4 linked regions of the Homo sapiens genome follow. The protein of the gene in region 1 purifies or fractionates together with the protein of each later gene. This does not show direct contact. Each region holds a gene or a part of one and is shown in the gene's direction. Other genes may lie near its edges.

What was found. The genes of interacting proteins can lie anywhere in the genome.
Region 2: the proteins of SGSM1 (region 1) and RANBP3 purify together in Homo sapiens (affinity purification with mass spectrometry; one large-scale study listed by BioGRID and IntAct). This does not show direct contact.
Region 3: the proteins of SGSM1 (region 1) and PDGFRL purify together in Homo sapiens (affinity purification with mass spectrometry; one large-scale study listed by BioGRID and IntAct). This does not show direct contact.
Region 4: the proteins of SGSM1 (region 1) and ABCB10 purify together in Homo sapiens (affinity purification with mass spectrometry; one large-scale study listed by BioGRID and IntAct). This does not show direct contact.

Annotation. Positions count from the first base shown.
Region 1 is NC_000022.11:24,804,745-24,809,010, forward strand, and holds the start of SGSM1 (small G protein signaling modulator 1), read left to right. Parts: upstream 1-1,466; 5' UTR 1,467-1,581; coding exon 1,582-1,600; intron 1,601-1,696; coding exon 1,697-1,740; intron 1,741-4,266. UniProt on the Homo sapiens protein: Interacts with numerous Rab family members, functioning as Rab effector for some, and as GTPase activator for others. Promotes GTP hydrolysis by RAB34 and RAB36.
Region 2 is NC_000019.10:5,919,141-5,922,640, reverse strand, and holds part of RANBP3 (ran-binding protein 3), read left to right. Parts: intron 1-1,319; coding exon 1,320-1,440; intron 1,441-3,500. UniProt on the Homo sapiens protein: Acts as a cofactor for XPO1/CRM1-mediated nuclear export, perhaps as export complex scaffolding protein. Bound to XPO1/CRM1, stabilizes the XPO1/CRM1-cargo interaction. In the absence of Ran-bound GTP prevents binding of XPO1/CRM1 to the nuclear pore complex.
Region 3 is NC_000008.11:17,636,216-17,639,715, forward strand, and holds part of PDGFRL (platelet-derived growth factor receptor-like protein precursor), read left to right. Parts: intron 1-3,500.
Region 4 is NC_000001.11:229,541,708-229,545,207, reverse strand, and holds part of ABCB10 (ATP-binding cassette sub-family B member 10, mitochondrial), read left to right. Parts: intron 1-2,836; coding exon 2,837-2,971; intron 2,972-3,500.

The DNA of each region.
Region 1 (4,266 bases):
CACCTGCTCAGTGGGGCCTCCCTCAACCACCCTACTTCAGAATACGATCCCCAGGGGTCTGGGCCCTCCCTGTCCCCCTTGCCTACTTAATTTTTCTCCAGAACTTTCCAGCATGGTCTGTCCTTTTCTTACATATTTTGTTGTCCGCCTCCTAAACTCCATGAGGGCAGAGTTCATTGTCTGTCTTGCTCACTTAGAAATCTCTAGCACAGTCACTTGGCACAGAGTAGGTGCTCAATAAATATTGACCTGAGTTGCATTCTGGGTGGATACAGTTAGGGACTTGGGGTGACCAGGGGCTCTTGATGGAACAAGGCTTTTCCCACAGAGCCCACTGCTTGCTCAGCCCCAGAGATCCTGGCTGACAAGTGCCTCCTTTTGGGGCCAGACTCCTGGGAAAACCCCACTCCTCCAGTGACCTGCATGTCGGGGAGGGAGCCACTTAAGTCCCGGCCTCTCCTGAATGGATAACCAGTGTATCTTGGAAGACTCTTTTTTTTTTTTTTTTTTTTGAGATGGAGTTTCACTTTTGTTGCCCAGGCTGGAGTGTGGTGGCACAATCTTGGCTCACTGACACCTCTGCCTCCAGGGTTCAAGCAATTCTCATGCCTCAGCCTCCTGAGTAGCTGGGATTACAGGAGCACGCCACCATGCCTGGCTAATTTTTGTATTTGTATTTTTTTTATTTTTTGAGACGGAGTCTCACTCTGTCGCTCAGGCTGGAGTGCAATGGCGCCATGTTGGATCACTGTAACCTCTGCTTCCCGGGTTCAAGAGATTCTCCTGCCTTAGCCTCCCCAGTAGCTGGGATTACAGGCAGCTCGCCATCATGTCCGGCTAATTTTTGTATTTTCGTAGAGACGGGGTTTCACTATGTTGGCCAGGCTGGTCTCGAACTCCTGACCTCAAGTGATCTGCCCGCCTCGGCCTCCCAAAGTGTTGGGATTACAGGCGTGAGCCACCGCGACCGGCTGGAAGACCCTCAATAATAATAATTAATAATAATAACAGTAACAGTGGCAAGCATTTATGCTCGCTGGCCTTTCCCCCTGGGTCTGTATTAAGGGCTTCACATCCAATATCTCACTTAAGGCTCAGATCGTTCTGAGACCCATTATGCCCATTTTATACCACATTATACCCATTTTAAAGATGAGAAAACTGAGGCTTGGAGAATATCGGTAGTAGCCCCACCATTTCCTGTGACTTCCTGGAGCCTGGCCCACAGAGGAGGGTTCAGGACGGACGCTTTCCTTCCCCGCCCTAGGGAAGAGGGAGGGACGCGGGCGCTGGCGTGGAGGTTGGGGGAGCCTGAGAGGCTCGGGCGCTGGGTGCGCGGGAGGGAGCGTGCGTGCTTGGCGCGAAGGCTCCTGGCGCAGGCGACCCGGCTGCCCCGCCGAGCGGTGGCTTTCCGGAGGGGTGGGGCGGCCGCCTCGGGTCCTGACGTCGGGCGCCCTCCGGCCGTCACTCAGCGCTCGGCCCCGCCCCGCCGCGGCTGCAGCAGCAGCGCCGCGGCCGGAGGAGCTACCGCCGCCACCGCCGCCACCGCCTCCTGGGACTCGGAACGCAGCGCTCGGAGCCATGGCCTCGGCCCCCGCGGGTAAGAGGCCGCTGGACACGAGGGCGGCGGGAGGGCAGCGCCCGGCCCCCGCACCCTCTCTCGGCTGACCCGCGGCTCTCGTTTCTTGTCCCACAGAGGCGGAGACCCGACAGAGGCTGCTACGCACCGTCAAGAAGGAGGTGGGTGCCGGGGTGGGGGCACTGGGCAGGACTCCCCCGGCAGCAGCGGCCAAACGGGAAAAGAGTCTTCGTGGAAGGGTGGCCTCTGGCGGCGGGGGGGCGGCCAGAACAGGTGTGGGGCTCACCTGGGTGGGCATTGACCTCCCGCAGGGCAGGAGGCGCAGCGAGGGAGTTTGGGGGTGGGCGTAGGTGTGGGGAGGCTTTGGCCCATTTGAGGCTTTTTGCGGGGGCGGATGTAGCGTGAGGGCCCTCCAGGTGTGGGGCACACCTGGATGTATCCCGATAGGACCTCCTCTTGTGGAGGAGCAGGTGGGCGCGGCTCAGGAAGGGGACCTTCCAAGAGAGAGAAGCTGCTAGGGGGACGCCCCCCACAGGGTGTGCTGGAGGAGGGGCTCTGAATGGGGCTGCCGAAGGTGGGGCACGCTTCAGGAAAAGGCAGAAGGAAAATAAAACCTCCCTTCCCAGCCCCCGAATTCTCAGTCCTTGGAGCCACCTCCAAGAGCCAGGGGACTCCCTCCCTGAGAGTCACGGGTCAGTGAGCTGCTCCCCTGGCAGTAGGGGTCCCTTCACTCCCCCCGCCCCACTCCCACCCCACATTCAGAGGGTGAGAATCAGAGAGGTTCTGCCATTCCTCTGCCCCTCCACTCTCCTTGGGGTCAGCGCGTGGAGAGGGGGGCAGTCTAGTCTTTAGGGCTCATGGCCAATGACCTCCCAGAACCCCATAGACAGAATTTATAGTCCTTGGGGTAGCATCTCGATGCCTGGACTGCGTGCTCTGGTGTGTATACCTGCATGGGTGAGGACCTGTGGCTGTGAGTGTGTGCGTATGAGAATGTCTGTGCATCTGTCTGGAGATACCTAAGTGTATCTCTTTGCACTGTGTGTACACGTATCTATGTGTGTCTTTGTATCTGTTTTTGTGAGGGTGGGTCTGTGTGTGTATATTGTGTGGTGCATGAGTCTGTGAATGAGTGATGCTGTGAGTGTGTGTGTGTATCTTGAGTAGGTGTGTGGCATGTGATGCATGAGTCTGCATGAATAACTAGGGCTGTGACTCCGTCTGTGTGCGTGTGTCTTGTGTGTTGCCCTCCCCATTCTTCAGTCTCAGACCCCATTGCTGCTGTGTCTTCATCACTTTTGAACCTTATCAGCGCTTAGCCCAAGGCCTTGCATGGCAGCAGACATCGTGGGCTGGCCTGGTTTCTGGGCCTGGCTTTCAGTGTGTGTGTGTGTACATGCGTGCATGTGTGTGTATGTGTTGGGGGTGTTGGCTGAGGTGGCAGCATCAAGCATCACTGATGACCCCTCCTTCCCTGCACAGTGGCAGACAGCCACCAAGGGCAGCCTCGAGGCTTGGACCTGTTGCTGCTCCTCCGTCCTCCGGGAGCATGAGTATGTGCCTGCGTGTGTGTGTGTGTGTGTGTGTGTCTCTGTGTGTGGCATGTCCTATTTTGTTTAAAGAATGAGCTCCAGGGCTGCTTGCACATTCTAGCATTTTCGAATGAGACATGCAAAATACATTGGATCCCTCAGAAAGGCCCAGAAGTTTTCAGCTCAGCCCTTGTATAGACTCCTGTGGGTATTCCAAGGGAGATCCATCTAGAACCTCTTATCTTTTTTTTTTCTTGGTGTTTTTTTTTTTTTTTTGAGACGGAGTCTCGCTCTGTTGCCCAGGATAGAGTACAGTGGCACAGTCTCCACTCACTAAAAACTCCACCTCCTGGGTTCACGCCATTCTCCTGCCTCAGCCTCCCAAGTAGCTGAGACTACAGGAGCCACCATGTCCGGCTAATTTTTTATTTTTTTATTTTTAGTAGAGACGGGGTTTCACCACGTTAGCCAGGATGGTCTCGATCTCCTGACCTCGTGATCGCCTGCCTCGGCCTCCCAAAGTGCTGGAATTACAGGCGTGAGCCACTGCTCCCAGCCTAGAACCTCTTTTCAATAGAACTCACAGACCAACAACATCCTTGTCACTTTCAGTGGAGGGGCATGTACCTTACAAAGCACCTGCTGTCTTTTTGTTCGTGGTTTAACCAGACCTACGTGTAATATGTGTCCCTGAGATGTTTTTGCCTGGGGTAGCTTTGTTTTTAAGGCAATGGTTGGTTGAATGGGGAGGGGGCTGCAGGCAGAAGAGAACACCAGTAAGACATCTGGGGAAGGCTCTGGCTGAGGCCCAGGTCCCAGCTCAGCTACCATCTTCCTCAGTTTCCTGCGCAGGTTCCTTCTTCTCTCTAGGAGTCAGTTTCTCCATCTGCAGAAGGATGCATTAGTATCAGTGTCCTCTAAGGTCTGACCCGTGTCAGTCTAGTTTGGGTCTTGGGCTCAAAGAGGGGGAATAACTTGCCCAAGAGCACACAGCCAAGATGGGACAGAGTTGGGACTTACCCCCCAGGTCTTTTTGATGTCAGAGCCACACTCTGACCCTCCCATCCCACAAACATGCTCATCCAAATCTACACGGTGCCACACCTTGGACAGAATGTGTGGGCAGTACAGTTTCTACTGTACAGATGAGAACAC
Region 2 (3,500 bases), on another chromosome or scaffold:
TTCAGGGAATGACAAAGACTGTCATACCAAACATATTCTCTTGTCGCCCAGAGCTGGCAACTGTATTATTTGTCACCTGGCATCCTGTGGTGTCTTCGTAGGGAAAAGATCAGGTGCGGCCAGAGGTTCCACCCCACCGTCCCCTCCTGGCATCCCCCATTCCTGCTCCTCAGGCCGCACCACCCGGCTTGGGCAGCATCCATGTGCTTCCTCTCCCGTGGCACATAAGCAGGTGTCTGTGTCTGTAAACCGGGTGGCGTATCGTGGCGTTCTTAAGAGCACTGTTCTTTTTTCCCACTTACCACTTTGTCATCTGTTCATGTTGAAAGAGATTGACTTAGGGGGTATGTGGAAAGCCATGTAGGGGTGTCTGTCTCGTATTTTTCTTTGTTTATATATACAAAACTGCTGTATTGAAATATAGTACAAATGCTATATAATCCATCCTTTTAAAGCATACAATTCCGTGGTTTCTAGTATATTCACAGAGTCAGACAACTTTCACCAGAATCTAACGTACAACATTTCTGCCCCCAAAAAGAACACTGTCCCATTCCCCCAGAAAGAGCATTGTCCATTCGCAGTAACTCCTCCTCCCTCCCCAGCCCCTGGCAGCCACAGATCCACTTCCTGTCTCTGTTTTTTGCCTGTCCTTGACATTTCATATAAATGGCATCAACGCACTATGTGGCCTTTCGTGTCTGGCTTCTCTCGCTGAGCCAGAGGTTCATCCACGTTGCAGCGGGGGTCGGAGCCTTGTTCTTTATTAAGACTGAGTGAGATGCGCTGTAGGGGCGGACCATGTGTGTCACTCCATTCCTCCTTGAGACTTGGCTACCGTGAATGATGGTGCTGTGCACGTTCATGTGCGATCTGTGTGTGAACACGAACAAATGTTCCATTTCTCTTGGGTACATACCGAGGAATGGAATTGCTTGGGCATGTGGTAATTCCTTGTTAAGCAGTTTGAGGAGCCGCCAGACTCTTCCACAGCAGTGGCACCATGCGGCCTTCCCGCCAGCAGTGTGTGAGGGTTCCAGCTTCCCCACATGGGTATAGCCGTCCTAGAGTGCGCAGAGAGGCTTCTCACCGTTGTTTTGCTTTTCATTTCCTTAGTGATTCTTTTAATTTCAGATACCCCTTATACAATGTAAAGCCTGTTCTAGCTTGAGGGCAGGACAAAAAACTGACCAAGGTGGCCCCCAGGCCGTCGTTGGCTGGCCCTGGCAGTCCCCACAGGCTAAAGGGCGACTCTCAGGGTGTGGCTGCAGCAGGACACCAGCTGGGGTCCCTGCTTACCGGCGGCCACTGTGTTCCAGATGCAGTGCAAGCTGTTTGTCTTTGACAAGACCTCACAGTCCTGGGTGGAGAGAGGCCGGGGGCTGCTCAGACTCAATGACATGGCGTCCACCGATGACGGCACACTACAGTCCCGACTAGGTGAGCTGCCGACGGCGGGGGCTGTGGCCGGGTCCCCATGGGGAGGGCTGGGGACTATGCAATTCCAAAGGGAATGAAGCGGGGGAGATCCTGACCCTACCCTTGTGAGAGTCAAGGCACAGAGTCGGTCTCCCATGAGAGCCGCCCCCCAAACCCCCTCCCTGCACCCAGCCCTCAACACCACCCTCACACACTGGCTCCAGCTGCCAGCTCGTCCGTGACCCTCTTAGTGTCAAAATGGACAAAAGTCTATGGAAGTTTTTAAGCTGATTTTCTGACAAAGTGGCAGGTTTATGATAGAAAGGAAAATGAAATCAAACATCAAGTCTAATCTCTTGATAAAGACAAATTTTGGCCAGGCGCAGTGGCTCACGCCTGTAACCCCAGCACTTTGGGAGGCCAAGGTGGGCGGATCACCTGAGGTCAGGAGTTCAAGACCAGCCTGGCCAACATGGCAAAACCCTGTCTCTACTAAAAATACAAAAATTAGCCGGGCATGGTGATACATGTCTGTAATCCCAGCTACTCGGGAGGCTGAGGCAGGAGAATTGCGTGAACTTGGGAGACGGAGATTGCAGTGAGCCGAGATTGAGCCACTGCACTCCAGCCTGGGCGACAGACCAAGACTCCATCTCAAAAAAAAATAAAATATACTGTTTTTGAAAAGCTTTCATGTTAATATTCCATTGACAGTCAATGGACTTTTCCCTATTGGTGGACATTTAGCTTGGAGTACCTGCATACACACACCCACTTAAGGAAATCAGCCTGTGTGTGTGCACATTTGAAATGTGGGCGTGTCTTTTTTTTCCTTCTAAAGCTGATTTCACTCCATCACCCAGGCTGGAATACAGTGTGATCATCGCCTCAAATTCCTGGGCTCAAGTGATCCTCCCACCTCAGCCTCCTGAGTAGCTGGGACTACAGATGCACCACCACGTCTGGCTAATGTTTTTATTTTTGTCTTTATAAAGACAGGTCTCCCTGTGTTGCCCAGGCTGGTCTTGAGCTCCTGGCATCAAACAGTCCTCCCACCTCAGCCTCCCAAAGCGCTGGAATTACAGGCGTGGGCCACTGCGCTGGGACCATCTTTTTGTTTTATCTTCCCAAATCAAAGTGTCTTCTGGCCTTTTCATAAATATGGGTTTCAGGCCCAGCAGTAACTCAAGCAGCCCCCTTGAAGGGTAGTGTTCATGCACTTCAATCAGAAACACTGCTCTGGTCAGAACAGACAGGGGATGTCCCTGCAGGCTGGGACTGCTCTTTTGTTCCCCATGGACGTCTTTTTTTTTTTTTTTTGAGACGGAGTTTTGCCCTTGTTGCCCAGTCTGGAGTGCAGTGGCTTCGTTTCGGCCCACCGCAGCCTCCACCTCCCAGGTTCACGCGATTCTCCTGCCTCGGCCTCCCGAGCAGCTGGGCTTATAGGCACCCGCCACCAAGCCTGGCTAATTTTTTTATACTTTAAGTAGAGACAGGGTTTCTCCACATTGGTCAGGCTTGTCTCGAACTCCTGACCTCAGGTGATCTGCCCACCTAGGCCTCCCAAAGTCCTGGAATTACAGGCTTGAGCCACTGTGCCCAGCCTTATGGACGTCTTCTTGTGTTTTTCCTTTTGTCTCGTGGAAATGTTCAAATGTCCATGGAAAGAGAGGGCATAGAGCCCTGAGCCCCCAGGTCATCCCCTCTGCCTGGGTCATCAGCCTGTAGCCCCGTGGCAGCAGTACCCTCCCCAGCTTCAGGGAGAGCAAAATCACCTCTGTCTTTCTCCCACTCGGCCTCTGAGGTGGGCACCTGGGCTCAGGGAGGTCTGTTCGCTGGGCCAGGGCAGGGGGACAAGTTTCTGACCGTCTCCAGGCCTGCTCCAGTGGGGAGAGGCGGCTGGCAGGAAGGTAGGGGCTTGGCTGAGTCCACGGGGTGGGCCCAGGCCAGGCGCAGGGGTGTTGCATCCTCTAGAAGAGTCAGGGCCCTCCCATTTTCCTCCGTAATCTGCTGCCCACAGTCCTCTCGTCTCCTCTCCATGGAAGCGCTAAGCTGCGGTCCTACTCTGCCTTCTCCTAAGG
Region 3 (3,500 bases), on another chromosome or scaffold:
CTGTTATCTTCTAGAATTTTTATGGTTTCAGGTCTTAGATTTAAGTATTTGATCCACCTTGAGTTGATTTTTGTATAAGGTGAAAGATAAGGATTCAGTCTTATTCATCATCTACATTTGGCTTGCCAATTATCCCAGCACCATTTGGTGAATAGGGTGTCCTTTCCCCATTTTATGCTTTTGTTTGCTTTGTCAAAGATCAGTGTAAGTATTTGGGTTTATTTCTGGGTTCTCTATTCTGTTCCACTGGTCTATGTGCTATTTTTATACCAGTACCATGCTGTTTTGGTGACTATGGCCTTATAGTATAGTTTGAAGTCAGGTAATGGGATGCCTCTAGATTTGTTTTTTTTTTTTGCTTAGTCTTGTTTTGGCTCTGCAGATTCTTTTTTGGTTCCACATGAATTTTAGGATTGTTTTTTCTAGTTCTGTGAAGAATGATGGTGGTGTTTTGGTGGGAATTGCATTGAATCTGTGGATTGCTTTTCGCAGTATGGTCATTTTCACAATATTGATTCTACCCATCCATGAGCATGCGATGTGTTTCCATTTGTTTGTGTCATCTATGATTTCTTTCAGCAGTGTTTTGTAGTTTTCCTTGCAGAGGTCTTTCACCTCCTTGATTAGGTATATTTCTGAGTATATATATTTTTTGCAGCTATTATAAAAGGGGTTGAGTTATTGATTTGATTCTCAGCTTGGTTGCTGTTGGTTTATAGCAGAGCTACTGATTTGTTTACATTAATTTTGTATCCTGAAACTTTGCTAAATTCATCTATCAGTTCTAGCAGCTTTTTGGAGGAGTCTTTAGGGTTTTCTAGGTATATGATTACATCATCAGCAAACAGCGACAGTTTGACTTCGCTTTATTGATTTGGATGCCCTTTATTTCTTTCTCTTGTCTGATTGCTCTGGCGAGGACTTCCAGTACTATGTTGAATGCAAGTGGGCATCCTTGTCTTGTTGCAGTTCTCAGGGGAAATGCTTTCAACTTTTTCCCATTCAGTATAGACAGTTTTCATTACCTTAAGGTATGTCCCTTCTATGCCAATTTTGCTGAGGGTTTTAATCATAAAGGGATGCTGGATTTTGTCAAATGTTTTTTGTGTGTCTGTTGAGATGATCATGTGATTTTTTGTTTTTAATTCTATGTGGTGTATCCCATTAATGTCTTGTGTATGTTAAACCACCCCAGTATGAAACCCATTTGATCATGGTGGACTATCTATTTGATATGCTGTTGGATTTGGTTAGCTAGTATTTTGTTAAGGATTTTTGCATCTATATTCATCAAACATGTTGGTCTATAGTTTTCTCTTTTTTGTTATGTCCTTTCCTGGTTTTGGTATTAGGGTGATACTGGCTTCACAGAATGATTTAGGGAGGATTCCTTCTTTCTCTGTCTTGTGAAATAATGTTGATAGGATTGATACCAGTTCTTAGAATGTCTGATAGAATTCATTTGTGAATCCATCTGATTCTGGGCTTATTTTTGTTGGCAGTTTTTTAAATTACCATTTCAATCTCACTGCTTGTTATTGGTCTGTTCAGAGTTTCTCTTTCTTCCTGGTTTAATCTAGGAGGGTGGTATAATTCCAGGAATTTATCCATCTCTTCTAGGTTTTCTAGCTTGAGTATGTAAAGCTGTTCACAGTAGCCTTGAATTATCTTTTGTATTTCTGTGGTATTGGTTGTAATATCTTGTTTCATTTCTAACTGAAGCTTATTTGGATCTTCTTGGTTAATTTTGTTAATAGTCTATCAGTTTTATTTATCTTTTCAAAGAATCAGCTTTTTGTTTATCTTTTGTATTTTTTTGGTTCAATTTCATTCAGTTCTGCTCAGATCTTTATTTCTTTTGTTCTGCTATGTTTGGGTTTGGTTTGTTCTGGTTTTTCCAGTCCTTGAGGTGTGACCTTAGATTGTCTATTTGTGCTCTTTCAGACTTTTTGATGTAGTCATTTAATGCTATGAACTTTCCTCTTAGCACTGCCTTTGCTGTATACCAGAGGTTTTGATAGGTTGTGCTACTATTTTCATTCAGTTCAAATAATTTTTTAACTTCCATCGTGATTTCATTCTTGACCCAGTGATCATTCAGGAGCAGGTTATTTAATTTCCATGTGTTTGTATGTTTTGAGGGTTGCTTTTGGAATTGAGTTCCAATTTTATTCCACCGTGGTCTGAGAGAGTACTTGATATAATTTCAGTTTTCTTAAATTTATTGAAACTTGTTTTGTGGCTTATGATATGGTCTCTCTTGGAGAATGTTCCATGTGCTGATGAATAGAATGTATATTCTGCAGTTGTTGGGTCGAATGTTCTACAAATAGCCCTTAAGTCCATTTGTTCTAGGTTATAGTTTAAATCCATTGTTTCTTTGTTGATGTTCTGTCTTGATTACCTATCTATTGCTGACAGTGGAGTATTGAAGTTCCCCACTATTACTGTGTTGCAGTCTATCTCATTTCTTAGGTGTAACAGTAATTGTTTTATAAATTTGGGAGCTCTGGCATTAGGTGCATATATATATATATATATATATATATATATATATATATATATATATATAATTGTGATATTTTCCTGTTGGGCAAGTCCTTTTATCATTACATAATGTCCGTCTTTCTCTTTTTTAACTGCTGTTTCTTTAACGTTTGTTCTGTCTGATATAAGAACAGCTACTCCTCTATAAGACAGGCCTGCACCTGTAATCCCAGCTACTAAGGAGGCTGAGGCACAAGAATCACTTGAACCTGGGAGGTGGAGGTTGCATTGAGCCAAGATTGAGCCATTGCACTCCAGTCTGGCCGACAGAGTGAGACTCTGTCTCAAACAAAACAAAACAAACAAAAAGAATAGCTACTCCTGCTCACTTTGGTGTCCCTTTGCATGGAATATCTTTTCCCAGCCCTTTACCATAAGTTTATGTTAGTCCTATTTGTTAGGTGAGTCTCTTCAAAACAGCAGATACTTGGTTGGTGACTTCTTACCCATTCTGCCATTCTGAATCTTTTAAATGGAGCATTTAGGCCATTTACATTCAACATTAGTATTCAGATGTGAGGTACTATTCTATTCATCTTGCTATTTGTTGCCCGAATACCTTGGTTTTTATTTATTTATTTATTTATTGTGTTTTTGTTTTATAGGTCCTATGAGATTTATGCTTTAAGAAGGTTCTATTTTGGTGTATTTCAAGGATTTGTTTCAATATTTAGTGCTCCTTTTAGCATTTCTTACAGTGCTGGGTTTGTAGTGGCGAATTTTCTCAGCATTTGTTTGTCTGAAAAAGACTGTATCTCTCCTTCATTTATGAAGCTTAGTTTTGCTGTACACAAAATTCTTAGATGATGATTCTTTTGTTTAAGGAGGCTGAAGGTAGGGCCTCAATTTCTTCTAGCTTGTAGGGTTTCTGCTGAGGAATCTGCTGTTAATCTGACATGTTTTCCTTTATAAGTTATCTGGTGCTTTTGCCTCACAGCTCTTAAGATTCTTTC
Region 4 (3,500 bases), on another chromosome or scaffold:
GGGGATCAGGAAGAGTTCAAGCTGGGAAAAATCACTTGGGGTACTTTTTGTAACAAGGAAAGGGAATTCAGTGTAGGTCAGATGAGCAATTCAAAGGGGTCTGTTTGGGATGCCATAATAATACCACAGACTGGGTGGCTGAAACAACAGAAATGTATTTCTCACAATTCTGGAGGTTAGAAGTCCAGGGTCAAGGTGCTAGCAAAATAGTTTCATTCTGAGGCCTTTTCTTGTGGCTTGGCTGAAACAACAGAAATGTATTTCTCACAATTCTGGAGGTTAGAAGTCCAGGGTCAAGGTGCTAGCAAAATAGCTTCATTCTGAGGCCTTTTCTCTTGGCTGGTAGGCAGCTGCCATCTTGCCATGTGCTCACATAGTGGAGAGAGAGTGTGCTCTAGTGTCTCTTATAAGGACACTAATCCTATTGGATCATGGCCCCACACTTAACGACCTCATTTAACCTTAGTTACTTTCTTAGAGGCCCCATCTCCAAATACAGCCATGGTGGGGATTAAGGCTTCAACATGTGAATTTCAGGGGGAATTTCCATTCAGTCTGTAAAAGGGCCTCAGGAAGTGGCTTCACCTAGGATCTGATCTTTGGCTCTAGGGGATCAGAAATGTGACTTTGTTTCTCCTGCACAAACTCATGGACCTGACATAGGGGAAGTCCAGTTATGAGAACCTGATATTGTGTATGGCATACTGCCAATTTATTAATTTACATAGTGGGCCTACCCACCATTAAGTTGTGTTTCTGCTATTCCTTTTTTTTTTTTTTTTTTTTTTTTTGAGAGAAGGTCTCACCCTGTTGCCTAGGCTGTAGTGCAGTGGTGTCATCTTGGCTCACTGCAACCTCTGCCTCCCGAGCTCGAGTGATCCTCCCACGTCAGCCTCCTGAGTAGCTGGAACCACAGGCGTGCGCCACCATGCCCGGCTAATTTTTGTATTTTTTATAGAGACAGTGTCTCACCATGTTGCCCAGCCCACTGGTTTTGAACTCCTGGGCTCAAGCGATCCGCCTGCCTCAGCCTCCCGAAATGCTAGGATTACAGACGTGAGCCACTATGCCTAGCCCATTTCTGCTATTCAAAACACTTCATTATGGTGCCAGCACCCTGTATTAGTCATCAGAAGGTTTTTCATTAAGTGTGGAACCAGAGTGAAGGGAGGGGGGTGGTTCTGGACAGTTCTAGGAGAATCTTGATGGACTGTGCCTGCCCTACACAGAGGACACCTGTCCAGTTGGTTCATTTTGACATCAGTTGTGTTCAGGCCCCAGAAGTGTTAGACCTGCCCTGTTGGTCTCATGTCCTGATGGTGACCATCAGAGATATGATTATGTTCCCCAAGACTCACCCCAGGTGTCCTGATGGACTTGTCTTCTCAGGGTGGGACATTCCTATGCACATCTGCTTGCTCCTCTGTGAAGGTGCCAACCTCCTTTCTGCCTCAGGGCCTTTATGCAATGGCTCTTCCCTCTTGGGGGAGAGGTCTTCCAAGATTGTGTTACATCTGCAGTGATACTTTCTCTTTCTTTTACTTGTTTATTATCTAAGTCTCACCTCTTCTTTCTTGCATGAAAACTCTGTGAGGGTTGGTTATCTCCCAGGTGCCTGGAATAGTGCTTGCACTCAGTAACGTGGGCTCTCAGTAATAACTTGTTGAATGAGTAAATGAATGAGTGAATGATTGGTTGATCCATCCACTTATGTTTCAGTTTGCAGTTTTTCCTTAGTATTATTTAGCCGTGTACTGATTATACTATTTTCTGTGCAAATGAGATATGGTAGATTTTAGTAATTTGTCGAAGAGATGCCAGTACTATTGAAAGTACAATCACCAAATTGCAATGTTGACAGGAAAACCCTCTGTTACTTACTTCCAGAAGTTAGGTTATTCTTTCAGCAATTCCAATTGCTAGAAGCTCCTCAGTATATTGAGCCCAGATCCATCCTGCTGACTTCAGTCCACTGAGCCATAAAAGCAGCTCTAATTCTTCTTCGACTTGTTAGTTGTGTCCTCCAAGTCCTCTGTTGACTGTTATGCAATGTGCTGTTTTTTTTTTTTTTTTTTTTGAGATGGAGTTTTGCTCTTGTTGCCCAGGCGGAGTGCAGTGGCTCAATCTTGGCTCACTGCAACCTCCACCTCCCGGGTTCAAGCGATTCTCCTTCCTCAGCCTCCCGAGTAGCTGGGATTACAGGCACGTGCCCCAACACCCAGCTAATTTTTGTATTTTTAGTAGAGATGGGGTTTCACCACGTTGGTCAGGCTGGTCTCGAACTCCTGACCTCAGGTGATCTGCCCGCCTCGGCCTCCCAAAGTACTGAGATTACAGGCGTGAGCCACCACACCCCACCCGATAATGGGGTTTTTTGGTGACTTCACCATCTTGGTCATTTTGATGGGACGTGTTGCTGTGGTTGTTCAGTGCCTGCAGGTGGTTCAGACCTGAATATACAACTCCTGAGGTGGACTGGAGCGTGGAGCAGAATGGGCCTCTGCCAAACCCCCATCCTGTCTCTTCCCACTCTGTTGTTAAACCGCGTGGTCTGATCTAGTATTGGCCTGAGGATTCTTTCTTCAGCAATTTCTTGTCACATTTCTTCTATGTGGCATGCTGAATATTTATGGGGTTTTGTGAAGAATAAAGATGTCTGAAAAATTCCATCAAAACAGGATGTAACAACTTGGGGACAGTACCTTCAAGCCTGCTGTTAATTTAAACACACACACACACAGACACACCCACACACACACTCCCCTTTCGTAGGTAATGAGAATGTCTTGCCACCCAATGTAACAAACACCTCTGAATTTTTTTTTGTTTTTGACAGTTTTTTGTCTCACCTAATCTGGCCACCTTTGTTTTGAGCGTGGTGCCTCCAGTGTCAATCATTGCTGTAATTTATGGGCGATATCTACGGAAACTGACCAAAGTCACTCAGGATTCCCTGGCACAAGCCACTCAGGTAAAGGCCCCTTCCTGTCCGCGTGGTTTCCAGCAGAATGGGGTCATAGCCAGGATCCTAGAGGGCAGATCCTAAGGGATGTACTTAGGTTTTTCAATGAAGTGCCTGCCTTTCCTTTCATTAGAAATTACCCCAAGATCCATGAAACTTAAACTACTCTGTTTTCTAGACTAGATTTCTACCCATATCTCAAAGTAGATCTAACTTCACTAAACATTTTATGGAGTCCTCACTTGTTACTATCACTATTTCTTTTCTTTCTTTTTTTTTTTGTTTTTTTTTTTTGAGACAAGGTACATGAGAAAAGTTTTTTCATGCACTCTAGGCTGGAGCGCAGTGGTACAATCACAGCTTAGTGAAGCTTTAACCTCCCAGGCTCGAGTGATCTCCCACCTCAGCCTCCTTAGTAGCTGGGACTATCGCCCCATGCCACCATGCCCACTAATTTTTAAAATTTTTTGTAGAGACATGATCTTACTGTGTTGCCCAGGCTGGTTTCAAATTCCTGGGCTCAAGTAATCCTCCCACC